Homo sapiens: one gene and its partners. The protein of the gene in region 3 binds, or shares a complex with, the protein of the main gene of each other region. Each region holds a gene or a part of one and is shown on either strand. Other genes may lie near its edges.

Region 1 (4,012 bases), on a different chromosome or scaffold from region 3:
TGGGCAAAATGGTAAGACTGACAACACCAAATGTTAACAGGGATGTGAAGTAACCAGAACTCCGGGAATGTAAAATGGTGTAACCGCTTTGGAAAACTGGTGGGGAGTTTAGAAAAAGTTAAATATACATCTCATACCTCTACCCTATGACCCAGCAATTGTACTCATGTCCACAAAAAGCCTGGTACAAGAATATTTATAGCAGCTTCATTCTGACTGGCCCAGACCTGGAAACAGCCCAAGTGTCCATCAACAGGAGAATGGATAAACTATGGCACAGTCATAAAAATGAATAACCCCCAGCAATAAAAAGGAATTACTGATACATGCAACAACATGAATGACTCTTAACAATGTTATGCTGAAAGAAGCCTGCCACAAATGAATTCACAGTATGAATAGACATAATTAATTTGTGGTGATAGAAGTCAGATCAGCAGTTGCTTTAGAAGGGGGAGTTGGCTGGAAAAGGGCATGAGGGACCTTTCTGGGGTGATGGACTATTCTCTATATTGACAGAGGTGTCGATCACAGGAATGGTACGCGTTTGTAAAGACTGACAGCATTGTACACTTAAAATAAATCCATTCCATTGTATGTAAATTATAACTTAATGGAAAAGTTCTCTAACAGATTCTAGCCTCCCTGAACTTACAGAACCAGGAAGGGAGACTTATATACCTGTAGCATTGGACAAGAGTGAAAATCCTTGTTTTCTGGTAATTTGTAACTCTGAAATTTCAGATTAATTGTAATTTAAAGGCAAATATGGCTGGGCGCGTTACCTGTTATCTATAATCCCAGCACTTTGGGAGGCTGAGGCGGGAAGATCACCTGAGGTCAGGAGTTTAAGACCAGCCTGGCCAACATGGTGAAACCCTGTCTCTACTAAAAATAAAAAAATTAGCTGGGCATGGTGGCACGCGCCTGTAGTCCCAGCTACTCGGGAGGTCGAGGCAGGAGAATTGCTTGAACCCGGGAGACGGCGGTTGCAGTGAGCCGAGATCGCGCCACTGCACTCCAGCCTGGGTGACAGAGTGAGACTCCACCTCAAAAAAAAAAAAAAGGCAAATATACTTAGCTCTCACTATATTAAACATTCTCCTCTGATTCCAATTCCCTGCAGCCCAAGAAAATCCTACCTGAAGATCTCTGCTCTAAAAATTTACCTGGCAGATAGCCATAAAGGGTTAAGAAGATGCTACAGGCCTATATGGATAAAACAATAACAGGATGGCTCACCAGGTGGTGCCCAGGAAACGTCCTGAAGGATGCCACATTACCCGCGCCACACGCACTGTATGGCCTTCAATATCTGCCACTGGTTCATCACTGGAAAGGAACCAAACATATAAACAATTTTATAGACATATAAATAGTCACAAAACTGCTTACCTTCTGTGCAGACATACCCATTCTGTACAACACGAGAGGCTAAATTGTAACTACACTTGTAAACTACTTTGGCCCAATAAGCAAAATAGTCATTCTGCACCAAAGGAGTACCTGGATTCTAGAAAGAAAACATGCTTTGGAAGAGATATAAGGACACAGAAATCACATAGTTTTGGTACAAGTGGATTACAGATAAACCTTTTTCAAATTTAGGCCTGTTCCAAGATCCAAATGAAAAAGGAACTCCTAAATAGAGATGAGGCTTAGTCTCCTTTTGGTGGCCATTAAATTCTGCTACCCAGCAACCACCAAAAGATCTGAACATCAGCAAAAGGAAATAAACATGAACTCTAAGGAACGCAATTAAAAAGGGAACTTTGTCAATGTGCATACACAGAACAAGCCAAAGCCCAAGGGGAATAAACATTGCTAAGTATTACCAAAGCCAATTAAAACTCACTGCGCTCCTAAGTGAGACCCTGTCTGGTGAGGAGTGAAGACATTAATTAGCTCTCATAAAAATTCTCAAGTAAAAACCTTCATGTGTTTTCCCAAAGAAAGAAAACTAAACAATTAAATTCAGATGCCTTTTGGCCAACAGGGTGCTTCCGAAGTTTTTTTTTTTTTGGAAAACAATCACATAAACACATTTTTAAAAACTGTTGTAGTTGGAAAATACATTCTAGGTAAAGGATGATGCTATTGCGAGGAGACATCTCCGTGGTAATACTGCTAGACAGAACCTCACTTTCCTCTCCCCTGTGGCTGTTTGCTAAGAACCAACGAACTGCCAAGAATATTATATTTAGTTCATTGTTAATTTATCATGTAGGAGGTAGGCTGGATCTTTCTGGAATAAATGGAGCTAGGAAATAGTGGTCACTAGGCTATAGACAAAAATCAAGATCCAAAGTTAACAGGTAAGAAAAAACGGACATAACTCCTTTAGTAAGAAAAGGCCTAAGAATGAAATCTTCCACTTACTTCATTTTCACACTAGGTTACCTTGACTCTTAAACCATCTTGGGGGTTAAATGCCAGATTTTTTTTTTTGTTCTTTCAAGACGGAGTCTTGCTCTGTCACCCAAGCTGGAGTGCAGTGTGCAATCTCGGCTCACCACAACCTCCATTTCCCGGGTTTAAGCAATTCTCCTGCCTCAGCCTTAAGGTGTGAGCCACTGCGCATGGCCTAAATGCCAGATTTTTACTGAGGTCCTGGGGACCAACCAATCAAACATCTACTTTAGTGATGGCAGTATGGGCCACAGAACAGTGATATTCACCTGTCGAGACTCCAAAGCTTCACAGAGCCATCAGCCGCACAAGAGGCCAGGTTGACATCTTTTGGGTCCAAGGAGACAGTGGATTTGGGATGGAATACAATTGCTCCTACATTTGTGTTATGCCCTAAAGGAGTGTAAGAGATGCAAGTTAAAAGGTTCCTGCCTCTTTATAACCCATGTTATATACTAGGGAACATGTGGACATACAGAGTATTCAAGTGACTATTCAACTATTAAAACATGAACTATTTTAATTTAAGCTAATATTTAAATTACATTTTTAAAAAAGCAAAACACAAAAAAACCCATTTTGGTTTTTGGTTTAGAGATTATAAAATGCCAGAGTGTGACTGCACATGAGAGAAAAGTGGATGTGTAGGAAGTTGTGATAGTCCAGTCTTGCAGCCAGAGAAAACCAAGTCAAATCAAATCAAGGATTAATGCTGTGTGTATGGGGTCTGAGTGTCAAGCAGAGTTTAAGGCTTAACTGAGTTCACACTGGGAAAAAGACCGAGATTTGGATAAGACTCTAACTTACCTCGAAGAGTGTGAAGGAGGTTGCAATCAGGAACAGACCAGAGCTTGCAAAGCCCACTCCTATCAAATACAAAGGAAAGCATCTCAGCCAGGGTTGGTCTGGGAAGGAAAAGGTACCTTGGTAATATTACTAAAGGACAATCTCTTCTCACCCCCAATAAACTTTACAATGGCTGACAGAAAAATAAAAGCCTTATAGTTAGAAGGGTTATAGAAGAAAAAGCTACCTCCAGCCCACACGCAACCAGAGGCTTTTACTGGACTATAATTAACACTACACCAGTAGCCATTCTCCTTAACTTTTGGATCCACTTGTGAGGGAAGGTGGGGCAAATTAAACTATCCAATAATACGAATATTAATAGTGATACTGTCCTTAAATATGAATAGTATTTTGCTGATTACAAAGTATTTAAATTTTTTTTTTGAGAAACAGTGTCACTCTGTCACCTAGGCTGGAGTGCAGTAGTGTGATCACAGTTCACTGCAGCCTCAACCTCCCAGGCTCAAGCAATTCTATCACCCAGCCTCCTGAGTAGCTGGGACTAACAGGCGCATGCCACCACACCTGGCTAACGTTTTAAAAAATTAAATAAATTTTTAAAAATTTTTTGGGCCAGGCGCTGTGGCTCACACCTGTAATCCCAGCACTTTGGGAGGCCAAGGCGGGCAGATCACAAGGTCAGGAGATCGAGCCCATCCTGGCTAACACGGTGAAACCCTGTCTCTACTAAAAATACAAAAAATTAGCTGGGTGCGGTGGCGGGTGCCTGTAGTCCCAGCTACTTGGGAGGCTG
Region 2 (2,795 bases), on a different chromosome or scaffold from region 3:
AACCACTGAGCTATGCCAGCAGAGCAGGAGAGCCACCCTGGTCAGCGCCTGAGCGGGCGAGTGTGGTGGTGGGCCAGCGAGACTCTGACTTACAGAGAGGAGCGGCGGGCAGGTTCACCTGGGGGTCGTAGTTTGCAGACCCTCCCCCGCACCACCGCACAGGGCGGCCCTCGGTGTGTGTGGAGCAGCCGTGGACGGGCTCTCGGCCCTGCCTTGGGAGGAGACAGGCAGGCAGAATAATGCCCGGGGTGCCTGCTTCCCGAGATTGGTGGTGCCTGCTTCCCGAGATTGGTGGTGCCTGCTTCCTGAGATTGGCGTGGGCGTGCAGAGGGCAGCACCGTAAGGGCTGTGGGTTGGTGTCTGGAGGAAGCACCTGAAAGATGACAGGGGTAAGAAGGAGAGCAGGGAGGGGGTGGCTGCGGGACGCCCCTCAGTGAGCGCAGAGGTGGAGCTGCTGCTGGGCCTCGGCTGCAGGAGCCTGCAGGGCAGTGGAGGGGAGTCCCAGGCAGAGAGGGTGGGCTGGCCTCTGCTGGGGACACACAGCTCCCCCTTCACCCTTCTCAGTGTCACCAGACACTGCGGAGCAGGATCAGATGGCAGAGATCACCACCGGGTCAGAGAGCCCTAACCTAAGTTGGCAAGTTGTGGCCCAAGGCGGCGAAGCTTGAGGGGTGGGGCAGGCAGCGTGGAGAGAGAAGCCACAGAGACCGTCTCAGCCCCCGAAGCCTTTGCACCTGGGTCTCAGAGCATCTCTGTTGCCTGCTCCCCGCAAGCCCTAAGCAGCAGGGCTGGGATTTGTTCTTTTGTATTCCGTGAACTCACTGAGGGACTCAGCACAGGTCAGGCAGCGCAGTCATCACCGCTGTCAGAGCGGAGCACTCTGTCTCCCCTACAGGAAGCCCTGTCCCCATCAGCCATCACTGCCTGTCCCATCCCTGGCCCTGGCACCCACGCATCCCTTCCCTGTCTTTGTGGATTGGCCTGTCCTGGACATTTCATAGAAATGGGATCTCACGGTGCGCAGCCTTCTGTGTCTGGCGTCTCTCACTGAGCGTGACGTCCTCAGGTGCGTCCTCAGGCGCATCCGCGCTGTGGCCTGCGCCAGCCTCGCTCCTCTTCCTGGCTGGTGGTCCCACCGCGTACACGTGCCGCCGCCTGTTTTGCTGCTGCTTTTGAGCTGAGAATTGTTTTTATGACTTTTAAATAGCTAGAAAGGGATCAAAACAAGACTGTCTCACGATGTGGAAATTACATGAAATTCACAGTTCAGTGCCTGTGAGTAGAGCTGACCGGCCGCAGTTCAGCCACACATGGACTCATTACCGAAGCTGCCTCCACCCAGGCAGCCCGAGCCAGCAGCTGTGACCGGCACCCTGTGGCCCACACGGCCAGAAGTGTTTGCCATCTGGCCCCCCGCAGACGTGGTCTGCTGCCTGTGGTGGAGATCACTCTGGAGGCGGCTGTCATCGGCCACTCCCGGGAGCCCTCTCCTACCCTCAGTCCTCCATCCCTGGAGCAGTTAGCCCCATACCTGGGCCATGCTGGGGCGGGCCCTGCGCCCAGGACGGATCTCATGCCTTCTCTTTTCTCTCCCCCGGTGATTTCTCCAAGCCAGTGGAATCCTGAAGGGCTTCGACCCACTCCTCAACCTTGTGCTGGACGGCACCATTGAGTACATGCGAGGTGAGTGGGGTGGCGGCCGAGGCAGGCAGCGGGACGAGGGGGATAGTGGGGTGAGGGGGGCAGCGGGACGAGGGGGGCAGTGGGACGAGGGGGGCAGCCGTGGGGCTCCCTGCTGGCTCTTCTTCTCTCAAACCCACAAAACCTCTGAGTTACCAACGTGAAGCCTCGTGGCGGCCGATGGACGGGCTTGAGCGCTCACTGGTCCTAGACGTCCTCACAAAGCAGGAAACCCCATTGTTGTGGGGCCTGGAGAGACGGGAGCTGCCAGCTCACCCACTGGTCTCTACACACTGACGGGGCGCCCGGCACAGTTAGAGGACAACCTTTTTAAATGTTTTATTATTTTAATTTTTGTTAAATTGGTGACGTGAGAGGCCAGGCACAATGGCTCACACCTATAATCCCAGCGCTTTGGGAGGCCAAGGCAGGAGGATCTCTTGAGGTCAGGAGTTTGAGACCAGCCTGACCAACATGGTGAAACCCCGTCTCCGCTAAAAATGCAAAAAAATTGCTGGGTGTGGTGGCGCATGCCTGTAATCCCAGCTGCTCGGGAGGCTGACGCAGGAGAATCGCTTGAACCTGGGAGGCGGAGGTTGCAGTGAGCCGAGATGGTGCAACTGCACTCCAGCCTGAGTAACAGAGTGAGACTCCGTCTCAAAAAAAAGAGATAAGCTGAGGTCTCACTGTGTTGCCCGGGCTGGTCTCGAACTCCTGGGCTCAAGCCATCCTCCTGCTTCAGCCTCCCACAGTGCTGGGGTTCCAGGCGTGAGCTGTGGCGCCCAGCGGAGAGCAGCCTTGCTGTGGGGTAGTGAGCGTGCCGTGGGGCTCCTCTCGGGCGCCTTTCCTCTTCTGCCCTTGTTAATTCCCGCTATGAACGCAGGGTCCCTGTCTCCTCCCCAGAGGACCCTCCCTCATTTCCCTGCCCCCGCTCGCTCCCCTCCCCAGTGAGGCCGCCAAGTCCTCAGACTCTCCCCCAGAAGCTCCTGCGGCAAGTCCCCAGCTGGCAAGTCCCCATCCCGGCCCGGGCACTGGGGGAATGTCAGGACTTAGGAGAGAGAGGGTCTTGCCCCTTGGATCCATTGATACTGAGACAAGATTTATTCTTGTAGCTG
Region 3 (4,012 bases):
CCCCAGTGAGTCTCTGACCCAGCGGCCAGCGCACCAGTGTGAATCACACGCGTCCCCAGTGAGTCTCTGACCCGGCGGCCAGCACACCAGTGTGAATCACATGTGTCCCCAGTGAGTCTCTGACCCGGCGGCCAGCGCACCAGTGTGAATCACATGCGTCCCCAGTGAGTCTCTGACCCGGCGACCAGAGCACCAGTGTGAATCACATGCGTCCCCGGTGAGTCTCTGACCTGGCGGCCAGCGCACCAGTGTGAATCACACGCGTCCCCAGTGAGTCTGTGACCCGGCGGCCAGCGCACCAGTGTGAATCACATGCGTCCCCAGTGAGTCTCTGACCACGGCACCCTCAGGTGTGTCTGCCAGGAGAGGCGCCTGCCCCAGACCACAGCAGGAGCGACGGCAGCCGAGGATCGGGGAAGCCCACCCTGCTGCCGGGCATCTTTACAATGACCAGGAAGAGGCAGACAGACTCTGGAAAAAGAGCCCATTAGGACCCCGAGGTTCAGCAATCCTGTGGGGGCCCCACTCACTTGGCCACGGCCAGGAGCACATGGGGGTCATGCTCACACTTCTTCAGGGCATCCACGCTCTTGGTCCTCCTCTGGGGCCTTGCCTCGAGGAAGATGGCCTCAGACCACAGGATACCTATAATTCAGAAACAAAGAACAAAGATTTGCACTCCAGCCTCTGGTTCCGGAAAGGTGCCCAGCCTACAGATTCTAACCCGGGACGTCCTCAGACCACGACAGGGGCCTCCCACACACGGCTCGCAGAACTTGTGCAAGGAGAACCACAAAGGATGAGCACTCTGGCCCACCCAAAACCATGGCAGCCCTGAGGGCACAGACTGGACACCCTGCAGAGTCTCACTCTGTCATTCAGGGTGGAGTGCAATGGCGCAATCTCAGCTCACTGCAACCTCCCACTCCCGGGCTCAAGCAATTCTCCTGCCTCAGCCTCCCGAGTAGCTGGGATTACAGGCGCCCGCCACCATGCCCAGCTCATTTTTGTATTTTAGTAGAGACGGGGTTTCACCATGTTGGCCAGGCTGGTCTCAAGCAATGGACTCCTGGACTCAAGCAATCCTCCCGCCTCAGTCTCTCAAAGTGCTGAGATTACAGGCATGAGCCACCACACCTGGCCAATTTCTTTTAAATTTTAAAAGAAAAAGAAATGATAACACTTCAGAAATGAAATCAAATTCTCCCATTTTGAGGCCAAGAATTTCATTAAGTTGTCTTAACGGCCGAGTATAGCTGAAACTTTTGACTGAAATGATTCACACAAACTACACATTTTAATAAAGTCCGTCTGAAGCCTGAGCCCCCACTCCCTCAGGAAGTGCCAGCCCTGCGGAGTCTGGGAAGCCAGGAAGCACCCCCTTACCGGAGTCAAGGCACCCCCTTACCGGAGTCAGGGCACCCCCTTACCGGAGTCGGGGCACCCCCTTACCGGAGTTGGGGCACTCCTGCAGCGCCTTGGCCATGAGTGTATTTGCGATGTTCTTCAGCCCCGCACGGTACTCCAGCCGCACGGACTCCAACCTGAGGAGACAGGCCCCCGGAGGTCCCACAGCCGTCTACCAACAGCACATATTCTGGTAGCTTCTGGGAAGCCTTGTCTGAAAGGGCTCTCCACCCAGTCACAGCAGCAAAAACTCCATTCCCTCCACAGCAGAGCTCATCCACCACAGAAACAAGGCGCTGGGGCCCACATCCCTGCCAGCCCCACTGGCAACCGCCCCAAGGCAAGACCTCAGATCCTGACGCTGTCCAGATGCAGGTGAAGGCATCCAGAACAAACAAGACCAGACTGGGAGAGCCAGGGCCGCACAAGGCACCCAGAAGCTGCCTGTCTGCGGCAGTGCCTGCACAGTGCTCCAGCCCCGTCACCCTGAGCTGGACGCAGCACCTCCATGAACAGAGCCTGCACCTAGCAGGCTCCTGTCCACCTCCAGGGCTCTCCACGCCACCTCCTCTGTGGAGCTGGCTCTCCGGGGTCCATCCTTCCCTCGTCCCAGCCATCATTAACCCCTCCCTCTCCCAGGCGCCCTCCATCAGAACACAAATTAAACTGCATCAAACCATCTACAGGCCTGTCACAGTACCTAGGCCGAACTCTCCTAAGGCAGGGACCGTGATTTTTCATGGCCAGCACCTACCGCCCCCCAAGCCCCTGAGCCTGGAAGCACTGCACGAGTGACTCCACACAAGCAGCTGGGTGACGGCGGCCCACCTGATGGGGAAGCTGTGCCCAGAGGCCAGGCTGCCCCCTCCAGGACTCACCACAGCCCAGGGTTCTTTGGGTTCTTCAGACGAGACTTTTCCAAAATGGCCCGTGCTCGAGTAAGCTGCCCAATCTTCTCCTCCAGCCGAGAGAGCAAAAGCCACAGGGGTGTGGAGTGGGGACACTTCTTCAACTGCAACCAACAAGTAAGAGAGCAGCTCAGGTGGTGTCTATGAAGAACTGGGACACAGCCATGCCCAGCTTCTCATCTGCAGTGGGTGACCGAGTCCCTCAGGGCTGCCATGTCCATGGAAAAACACCCCTCACACTCTGCATTTGTGGGTGTACAGGTGTGCGGTGGTGCTGTGGACCTGTGCACACAGGTCTGTACGTACCAGCCTTTACTGCAGGTGTGCCACACTCTGCACTTCTGAGCAGTGTGTGCAGCTTCATATAAGGAAAAGCACAGAACTCAGCGAGGGGACCAGGGTTTGGGTCCTGAGTCTGCAGCTCCATCAGCTGTAACCCCCAGCCCTCCACATCTCCTCAGAGGCGAAGGGCAATGACCCTGCACCAGGGGGCTCAGTTTTGTGAATGCCGGGTCAGCTGCAGCCCCAGGGTGCAGGCAGAGACGTACCCCCTGGTTATAGGCTTCCCGCGCCTTCTCCATCATCTCCTTCTGCTCCTCGATCTGCCCCTTCATCATCCACAGCTTGGGGAAGTCCTCATAGTGCCGCAGGGCCTCCTCGCACAGATCTTGGGCTGCCCTGATGTTGTCTTGCACCCACTCCAGCTTCACAGACTTCATGAACACCTGTGGGGCAGACATGCACTGTCACGCAGGGCATCAGCTCCAGGGTACGTGCTTCATGGTACACTCATCCTCAACACTGTTACCTGCAGTACTGTGTGTACTTTTGTAAGCTTTTCATAGCCTGTTTGTGTACACAAAAGGTGGGGATAAATATATGTTTTTGTTTTGTTTTGTTTTTTTTTGAGATAGAGTCTCGCTCTGTCACCCAGGCTGGAGTGCAGTGGCACGATCTCGGCTCACTGCAAGCTCCACCTGCTGGGTTCACACCATTCTCCTGCCTCAGCCTCCCAAGTAGCTGGAACTACAGGTGCAAGCCACCACACCCAGCTAATTTTGTATTTTTAGCAGAGTTGGTCAGGCTGGTGTCGAACTCCTGATCTCACAATCTACCTGCCTTGGCCTCCCAAAGTGCTGGGATTACAGGCGTGAGCCACCACACCCGGCCGTATGAACATGTTTGTTGTTGTTGTTGTTGCTGAGACAGTTTCCCTCTTGCTGCCCAGGCTGGAGTGCAGTGGCGCGATCTCAGCTCACCGCAACCTCCACCCCCGGGGTTCAAGCGATTCTCCTGCCTCAGCCTCCCGAGCAGCTGGGATTACAGGCACGCACCACCACGCCCGGCTAATTTTGTATTTTTAGTAGAGACGGGGTTTCTCCATGTTGGTCAGGCTGGTCTCAAACTCCCACCCTCAGGTGATCTGTCCGCCTTGGCCTCCCAAAGTGCTGAGATTACAGGCGTGAGCCACCGCGCCCGGCCACCACGCCCGGCCACATGAATGTTTTAGTCACATCACAAAGATGAGTGTGCTGTGGTCTCGTTTGCCTGCCGTCATCTCACTCCCATCACCACCCAAGCCAGGCGTGGGGCCCGCATGTGCACACCATGCACCCCAGACGGCCCAGCCCTGCCTGCCACTGCGTACCCGGGCGGTGGGGGCACTGCTCCGCGCCTTGGCCAGCAGCCTCCGGGCC
Region 4 (4,012 bases), on a different chromosome or scaffold from region 3:
GGAGTTTCACCATCTAGGCCAGGCTGGTCTTGAACTCTCGACCTTGTGATCCACCTGCCTCAGCCTCTCAAAGTGTTGGGATTACAGGCGTGAGCCACTGCGCCTAGTCCTACTTTCTTTCTTAAAATAATATTTATTTATTTAAAAATTAGAGACAGTGCCTCACTTTGTTGCTCAGGCTGGTTTCAAATTCTTTGAGTTCAAGCAGTCCTCTTGCTTCAGCTTCCCAAAGTGCTGGGGTTACGCGCATGAGCCAGCACACCTGGCCCTGTACTTATCTGTACAGTCCTTTAAATAATATGTACATTTAGGCCAGATGCGGTGGCTCATACCTGTAATCCCAGCACTTTGGGAAGTCGAGGCGGGTGGATGCCTGAGGTCACGAGTTTGAGACTAGCTTGGCCAACATGGTGAAACTCCATCTCTACTAAAAATACAAAAATTAGCCAGATGTTGTGTTGTGCGCCTGTAATCCTAGCTGCTCAGGAGCCTGAGGCTGGAGAATCACATGAACCCGGGAGGCGGACGTTGTAGTGAGCTGAGATCAGGCCACTGCACTCCAGCCTGGGCGACAGACTGAGACTCCATCTCAAAAAAAAAAAAAAAGTACATTTAAAATATTGATACCTGTTACCTCATTATCCTTTAGAAAGATGGGATCAATTGTATTCTCTTCCCAAAAGCGTCTTCCACATTTATTTTTTTGAGATGGGGGTCTCACTCTGTTGTCCAGGCTGTAGTGCAGTGGCACCACCATAGCTCACTCAGCCTCCTGAATAGCTGGGGCTATATGCCACCATGCCCAGCTAATTTTTTAATTATTTGGAGAGGCAGAGTCTCACTGTGTTGCCGAGGCTAGTCTGAAACTCTTGGGCTCAAGCAGTCCTGCCACCTTGGCCTCCCAAAGTGCTGGAATTACAGGTGTGTGCCACTGTGTCTGGCTGTCTTCCACATTTCTATGTGAGATAATTTTTTCATGGGTTACACGTTGACAGGGCAGGGAATGGTGAGGAGAGGGACTTAAGGGCCTTTGCGTTTTAGAACACAGGTTTCCATTTGTAGCACTGGCAATGCAAGTGATATTGATGTGTATAGATTGGGGCCACAGAGCAAGACAAGTACGGTAATCACTATCAGTCTTAGGCAATTTGGTGTGATGACTTGTTTTTGATTCTCCTCTTTTCTCCTTCCTGGGCCTTTTACATGGGAAGCCTAACTGTTGTGTTATAACCCTAGGCCCTAAAGTACCTTTATTTTTTTTATTTTATTTTGTTTTTGAGACAGAGTCTTGCCCTGTCGCCCAGGCTGGAGTGCAATGGCGTGATCTCGGCTCACCGCAACCTCTGCCTCCCGGGTTCAAGTGATTCTCCTGCCTCAGCCTCCCTGGTAGCTGGGATTACAGGCATGCGCCACAACGCCTGGCTCATTTTTTGTATCTTCAGTAGAGACAGGGTTTCACCATGTTGGCCAGGCTGGTCTCCCAACTCCTGACCTCGTGATCTGCCCACCCCAGCCTCCCAAAGTACTGGGATTACAAGTGTGAGCCACTGCACCCGGCCGTAGTAACATTTCTTTTCTTTTTCTTTTTTCTTTTTTTTATTGAGACGAGTCTCGCTCTGGTCGAGTCTACGCCAGGCTGGAGTGCAGTGGTGCTGTAACCTCCGACTCCCTGGTTCAAGTGATTATCCTGCCTCAGCCTCCCGAGTAGCTGGGATTATATGCATGCACCACCACGCCCAGCTAATTTTTGTATTTTTAGTAGAGAAGGGGTTTCACCACGTTGGCCAGGATGGTCTCAATCTCCTGACCTTGTGATCTGCCCACCTCGGCCTCCCAAAGTACTGTGATTACAGGTGTGAGCCACTGCGCCCAGCCTTCTTTTTTTTCTATTTATTTATTTATTTTTGTTTGAGATGGGGTCTCACTCTGTCACCCAGGTTGGAGTGCAGTGGCATGATCTCGGGTCACTGCAACCTCTGCTGCCTGGGTTCAAGTGATTCTCCTGCCTCAGTCTCCCAAGTAGCTGGGATTACAAGTGCCTGCCACCATACCTGGCTAATTTTTGTATTTTTAGTAGACATCGGGTTTCACCATCTTCGTCAGGCTGGTCTTGAACTCCTGACCTCGTGATCCACCTGCCTCGGCCTCCCAAAGTGCTGGGATTACAGACGTGAGCCACTGCACCCGGCCTTTTTATATTATTTTTAAAATTTTTCATAGAGACAGAGTCTCGGCCGTGTTGCCCAGGCTGGTCTTGAACTCCTGGACTCAAGTGATCCTCCCACCTCAGCCTCTCAAAGTGCAGTGACTACAGGTGTGAGCCAATATGTGTGTGGCTTTAAAGTGACTTTTCTGTTGGGATGAGAAAGAAGATCTTTCTCCTTTTTTTTCCTTGAGACAGGGTCTCACTCTGTTGCCCTGGCTGGAGTGCGGTGGCGCGATCTTGGCTCACTGCAACCTCTGCCTCCTGGGTTCAAGTGATTCTTCCACCTCAGCCTCCCGAATAGCTGGGATTACCGGTGCATGCCACCACTCCCAGCTAATTTTTTGTATTTTTAGTAGGGATGGGGTTTCACCATGTTGGCCAGGCTGGCCTCAAACTCCTGACCTCAAGTGATCCTCCTGCCTCAGCCTCCCAAAGTGCTGGGATCACAGGTGTGAGCCACCACGCCTGGCCAAAAGTTCTTTCTCTTATGTTTGTTGTCAGACCACTTTTGTGCTATGTATCTCCCCCTCCTTAAGGGACTTAATAAAATGACACCACTTTGTACAATTCCCAAATGTTATTTCACTGCTGGAGATGGTGGGGTGCTGTCAAATGTTTTTCAGCAGCTAGCAATATGGTGAGAACATTACTGAGGCAGTGGGTTTCAGATACTGGGTGTTTGTTTTTGTTTTTGTTATTAGGCAGAGACTCACCCTCTGTCTCAAAAAAAATAATGATTGCCTAGTACTAGTTCATTTAAATTAATTTCCTAGAGCATATTTAAGTGGGTCTTTTTTTTTTTTTTTTTTTTTTGAGACAGATCCTTACTCTGTCACCGAGGCTGGAATGCAGTGGCATGATCTTGGCTCACTGCAACCTCTACCTCCTGTGTTCAAATGATTCTCGTGCCTCAGCCTCCTGTATACCTGGGACTACAGGCATGCACCACACACAGCTAATTTTTGTATTTTTATATTTTATTTTTAAATTTTTTTTTTCCTCCTGGGTTCAAGTGATTCTCGTGCCTCACCTCCTGAGTAGCTGGGATTACAGGTGCACACCACAATGCCCAGCTAATTTTTGTATTTTTTTTTTTTTGAGACGGAGTCTTGCTTTGTCACCCAGGCTGGAGTGTAGTGGTGTGATCTCCGCTCACTGCAAGCTCTGCCTCCCAGTTCACGCCATTTTTCTACCTCAGCCTCCCAAGTAGCTGGGACTACAGGTGCCCGCCACCATGCCCGGCTAATTTTTTGTATTTTTAGTAGAGACGGGGTTTCACCGTGTTAGCCAGGATGGTCTCGATCTCCTGACCTCGTGATCCACCCGCCTCGGCCTCCCAAAGTGCTGAGATTATAGGCGTGAGCCACCACGCCCGGCCAATTTTTGTATTTTTAGTAGAGATGGGGATTCGCCGTGTTGGCCAGGCTGGTCTTGAAGTCCTGGCCTCAAGTGATCCGCCCACCTTGGCCTCCTAAAGTTCTGGGATTATAGGCATGAGCCACCGCACATGGCCTAGACGCTGGGTTTTAAAGACTTTCAGAATTTTACAAAAATTGGGGCAGAGAACTGCCAACTTTATTTTTGGCAAGATAAGGACGTTTTTAAAACTGCTATTTATTACGATTATTTTTATTTATTTATTTTTCTTGAGATGGAGTCTCACTCTGTCACCCAGGCTGGAGTGCAGTGGCTCGATCTCGCCTCACTACAACCTCCACCTCCCGGGTTCAAGTGATTCTCCTGCTTCAGCCTCCCGAGTAGCTGGGATTACAGGCGTCTGCCACTATGCCCAGCTAATTTTTTGTA
Region 5 (4,012 bases), on a different chromosome or scaffold from region 3:
CCTGGCAATCTAGACCACTTGCATGTCCAGGGCTGGGCACATACTTAGAAAAGATCTGAGAAGGCCGTAAGCTCTCTGGTTCACCTTCAGGCTCTGCACAAGCAGGAAGTGAAAGCTAAGGAGAGATGTAAACTGCATGGCAAGGAGTTGAAGGCAGGCTCCAACATACAAAAAGACAATCTGCAAAGACTGGGAGAATTTTTGTTCTTGTTGTTGTAGGTAATTTAGGAAACTTGTGTCATTCACTAGCTGACCACTAAGCTAACGAAAAAAAGAATTCAGTGGTCACACAGGACAAAGAATACAAACTTTACAAAATTAGTTCAAAAATTCACTAAACAGGCCGGGCATGGTGGCTTACACCTGTAATCCCAGCATTTTGGGAGGCCGAGGTGGATGGATCACTTGAGGTCAGGAGTTCAAGACCAGCGTGGCTAACATGGTAAAACCTTGTTTCTACTAAAAATACAAAAATTAGCTGGTCATGGTGGTGTGCCCCTGTAACCCCAGCTACTCAGGAAGCTGAGGTGCAAGAATCACTTGAACCCGGGGAGTGGAGGTTGCAGTGAGCCAAGATCGCACTACTGCACTCCAGCCTGGGCTACAGAGCGAGACTTCGTCTCAAAAACCAACCAACCAACCACTCTCACCTTACCCCAACCCACAGAAAGTCACTAAACAAACAACTACAATAAGCAGCTCTGGGGACCTAATTTCCAGAGTCACCACGCTATAATATTTAAATGCCTAGTTTTCAACAAAATATAAGGCATGCAAAGAAGCAAGTAACTATGGTCCATATAGAAGGAAAAAGTAGTCTTCTCAACAAATTGTGCTAAGACAACTGGCTAACCACATGCCAAAGAATGAAGGTAAGCCCCTGCCTAACATGATACACAAAAATTAATTCAACATGGATCAAGGACCTAAATGTAAGAGCTAAAACTATAAAATTCTTAGAGGGCCAGGTATGGTGGCTCATGCCTGTAACCCCAGCACTTTCGGAGGCCGAGGCCAGGAGGATGGCTTTAGCCCAGAGTTAGCGACCAGCCTGAGCAACATGGTGATTCCTCATCTCTACAAAATAAAAACAAAAAGTTGGGTGTGGTGGTATATGCCTATAGTCCCAGCTACTTGGGAGGCTGAGATGGGAGGATCGCTTGGGCCAGAGAGGTTGAGGCTGCAGTGAGCCGTGATTGCGGATCTGTACTCCAGCCTGGGTGAGAGTGGCGGCATCTCGGCTCACTGCAACCTCTGCTTCCGTGTTCCAGCAATTCTCCTGCTTTAGCCTCCTGGATAGCTGGGATTACAGGCATGCGCCACCACGCCCAGCTAATTTTTCTATTTTTAGAAGAGACGGGGGTTTCACCATGTTGGCCAGGCTGGTCTCGAACTCCTGACCTCAGGTGATCCACCCACCTTGGCCTCCCAAAGTGGTGGGATTACAGGCGTGAGCCACTGCACCCGGCCAAGACCCCATCTCTTAAACAAACAAACCCTTATAGCTCTACTTTTTTAAAGCGTGGATAACACAGAGAGGGCTCAGAGATGTTTCAATAAATGAATGACACACTTGAGAAGATGAACCACAAGTAAATGATTTAAAAGTATGGGTCGTTTCATTCAGAAGAAAGAGACTTTGGGATGACTGTTCCAAGTTTTAAAGGGCTGGCATCAAAAAGAAAGGAATCAGCCATGGAACTTTAGGGAAGGTCATAGGCTTAACTTCAATCCTGTAGTCAACAAGGAGAGTCTGAGTAGGATCTGTGCCAAGATGCCTCTTCCTCCCAATTCTCATGGTTTAGGATGAAAAGTAGTTTCTTCTTTGTTCATGTAAATACGAACTAAAAATTAGTTCATTACTCAGATAAATGGTCTAAAAAGAACGCTTCACTCCTCTCCTACATGCCCAACATCTCCTACTCCCCCAACTCCTGTGGTTACAGAATCAAGTCCAAACTTCTTAACCTGGAATTCAAGGCCTTAATAATTTAGATCCTATATATTTTATAAACTGTACTATAATCTTTGTCTCAATAGATACTTCACTCAGGTCAAATCTATCTTTGTCTTTCTCCTAAAAGTCATGGTAGTCAAAGTTTGTTTAAAATAATTTAGAATTTTAGTTCCAGATAACTACCACTTTTAATAATTATTTTACTTTGAAGCAATCATAAATTTATAGAAAACTTGGAAGTAAAAAGAACACTTTTTTTGGTCTAAATCATTTGAGAGTAAGTTGCTTACCCAATGCCTTATCACCTTTTTTTTTTTTTTGAGATGGGAGTCTCACTCTGTCTGTTGCTCATTCTGGAGTGCAGTGGCGTGATCTCCGCTCACTGCAACCTCCACCTCCCGGGTTCAAGCAATTCTTCCTCAGCCTCCTGAGTAGCTGGTATTACAGGCATCTGCCACCATGCCCGGCTTTTTTGTATTTTTAGTAGAGACAGGGTTTCTTCAAGTTGGCCAGGCTGGTTTCAAACTCCCGACCTCAAGTGATCCACCTGCCTAGGCCTCCCAAAGTGCTAGGATTACAGGCATAAGCCACTGCACCTGGCCCCTTATCACTCCTAAATAGTGTCTGTCCTACAAAGATGTTCTCCTACATCATCTCAACATAACCATCAAAATCAAGAAATACAGATACACTATCACCATTTTATCCTCAAATCCCACTCAAGTTTTACCAGTTATCCCAAATGTCTTATTGCACAAGGATTCAGTCTGGAATCATATGTTAAATTTAGACTCCAGTCTGCAAGACTCTCTCAAACTTTCCTTGAGTTTTATGAACTCAACACTTCTGAAAGTTACAGGTCATCATCCCCAATTTAGGTTTGTCTTATGTTTCCTCTTGATTAGATTTAAGTTATACATCTTTGGTAGGAATATCACAGAAATGATGCTGCATCTTTGTTGTATCCTAGCAAATGGTTCATGATTTTGTCTTGTCCCATTACTAATTAGGTCGATTTGATAATTTAGTTAGGATGTTCTTTTGACAAAATAAGCCTTGACAAGTACAAGGCTTATCTTGTACTTTCACTGCCCCTGGGCTGAAATAGGAGCCCTGGTTCCTTTTAATGGAAAACAGTACCTGTGCAGTAAGGGGTGCTATTGCTATTGGGGTCTTGTTGCTCCTAAACCTTTTCAGTGGACAGTCAGGCAATATATGTACATTTAGGTACACACACACACACACTCACACATTTATGTCTATTTTTTTCTATATGTTTCTATATTGAATATTGTGAGTTCACACTTATACCTCACACAAGATTCATTTTAGTCTTCTCTTTTGTACTGGTAACTCTGTTCTTGGACAGAGAAATCAGCCTCCCATTAAATTCAATATATTCACTTATTTGATTATGCTTCCTGCATGCAACCAGTTTCCCATATTCTCTTCCACCCTTCCCTACTTGAATTGTGATTCCCATTCTTGGTTGAAGCCATGTGTGACTCTTCCTTAACCAACTTGGGTCATTCCTCTGTGTGAACACCCTCATCACTCTGCTACGGCTCTTTTCCAGTCTGCACTTCTCCAAGCATGCAGTCATCATCTTGCTCAGTCTCAGACTCCCTACACCAAATCATTTCTACCCTGTGTGGATGCCCTCAGTTCAGGCTTTGACATCCACATTCTCCCCGTACTGCTTCACGTACAGGCGACCCTTTCACCCCATTAGGGCACTGTTGGGCTGCTGCCCCTCCCTCACCCTCAAATTCCCCACACTGGTTACCTACCCTGTGTTGTATGGATGCCTTCCTCACTCTCTGACTACTCCCTACAATGTACTGCCCTGCCCAGTGTGGATGCTCTCCTTACCACACTTGTGCTCTGACACTCTACTCTGGGCCACCTTGGCCCATCTCTAACTAGAGCACCTTCCCTGCTTTGGCCTATATAACTGGCTTTAGGACTGAACTGCTCATGAAAGGGAAATTTATATATATATGAGTACATACACACATACACGCAGTATTTCACTTAATTTTATTAGAAGAATGC

The links.
Region 1: PRPF6 (region 3) and PRPF4 share a complex: the UniProt entries of both Homo sapiens proteins name them as parts of the U4/U6-U5 tri-snRNP complex.
Region 2: PRPF6 (region 3) and LSM7 share a complex: the UniProt entries of both Homo sapiens proteins name them as parts of the U4/U6-U5 tri-snRNP complex.
Region 4: PRPF6 (region 3) and LSM2 share a complex: the UniProt entries of both Homo sapiens proteins name them as parts of the U4/U6-U5 tri-snRNP complex.
Region 5: PRPF6 (region 3) and SNRNP40 share a complex: the UniProt entries of both Homo sapiens proteins name them as parts of the U4/U6-U5 tri-snRNP complex.

What each region holds. Positions count from the first base shown.
Region 1 is NC_000009.12:113,285,495-113,289,506, reverse strand, and holds part of PRPF4 (U4/U6 small nuclear ribonucleoprotein Prp4), read right to left. Parts: intron 3,315-4,012; exon of another isoform or gene 3,299-3,314; coding exon of another isoform or gene 3,276-3,298; coding exon 3,217-3,275; intron 2,803-3,216; coding exon 2,679-2,802; intron 1,333-2,678; coding exon 1,243-1,332; intron 1-1,242. UniProt on the Homo sapiens protein: Plays a role in pre-mRNA splicing as component of the U4/U6-U5 tri-snRNP complex that is involved in spliceosome assembly, and as component of the precatalytic spliceosome (spliceosome B complex).
Region 2 is NC_000019.10:2,323,013-2,325,807, reverse strand, and holds part of LSM7 (U6 snRNA-associated Sm-like protein LSm7), read left to right. Parts: intron 1-1,611; coding exon 1,612-1,683; intron 1,684-2,795. UniProt on the Homo sapiens protein: Plays a role in pre-mRNA splicing as component of the U4/U6-U5 tri-snRNP complex that is involved in spliceosome assembly, and as component of the precatalytic spliceosome (spliceosome B complex).
Region 3 is NC_000020.11:64,026,010-64,030,021, reverse strand, and holds part of PRPF6 (pre-mRNA-processing factor 6), read right to left. Parts: coding exon 3,964-4,012; intron 3,041-3,963; coding exon 2,864-3,040; intron 2,420-2,863; coding exon 2,286-2,419; intron 1,545-2,285; coding exon 1,453-1,544; intron 646-1,452; coding exon 531-645; exon of another isoform or gene 337-530; intron 231-336; exon of another isoform or gene 1-230. UniProt on the Homo sapiens protein: Involved in pre-mRNA splicing as component of the U4/U6-U5 tri-snRNP complex, one of the building blocks of the spliceosome.
Region 4 is NC_000006.12:31,800,178-31,804,189, reverse strand, and holds part of LSM2 (U6 snRNA-associated Sm-like protein LSm2), read left to right. Parts: intron 1-4,012. UniProt on the Homo sapiens protein: Plays a role in pre-mRNA splicing as component of the U4/U6-U5 tri-snRNP complex that is involved in spliceosome assembly, and as component of the precatalytic spliceosome (spliceosome B complex).
Region 5 is NC_000001.11:31,282,980-31,286,991, forward strand, and holds part of SNRNP40 (U5 small nuclear ribonucleoprotein 40 kDa protein), read right to left. Parts: intron 1-4,012. UniProt on the Homo sapiens protein: Required for pre-mRNA splicing as component of the activated spliceosome. Component of the U5 small nuclear ribonucleoprotein (snRNP) complex and the U4/U6-U5 tri-snRNP complex, building blocks of the spliceosome.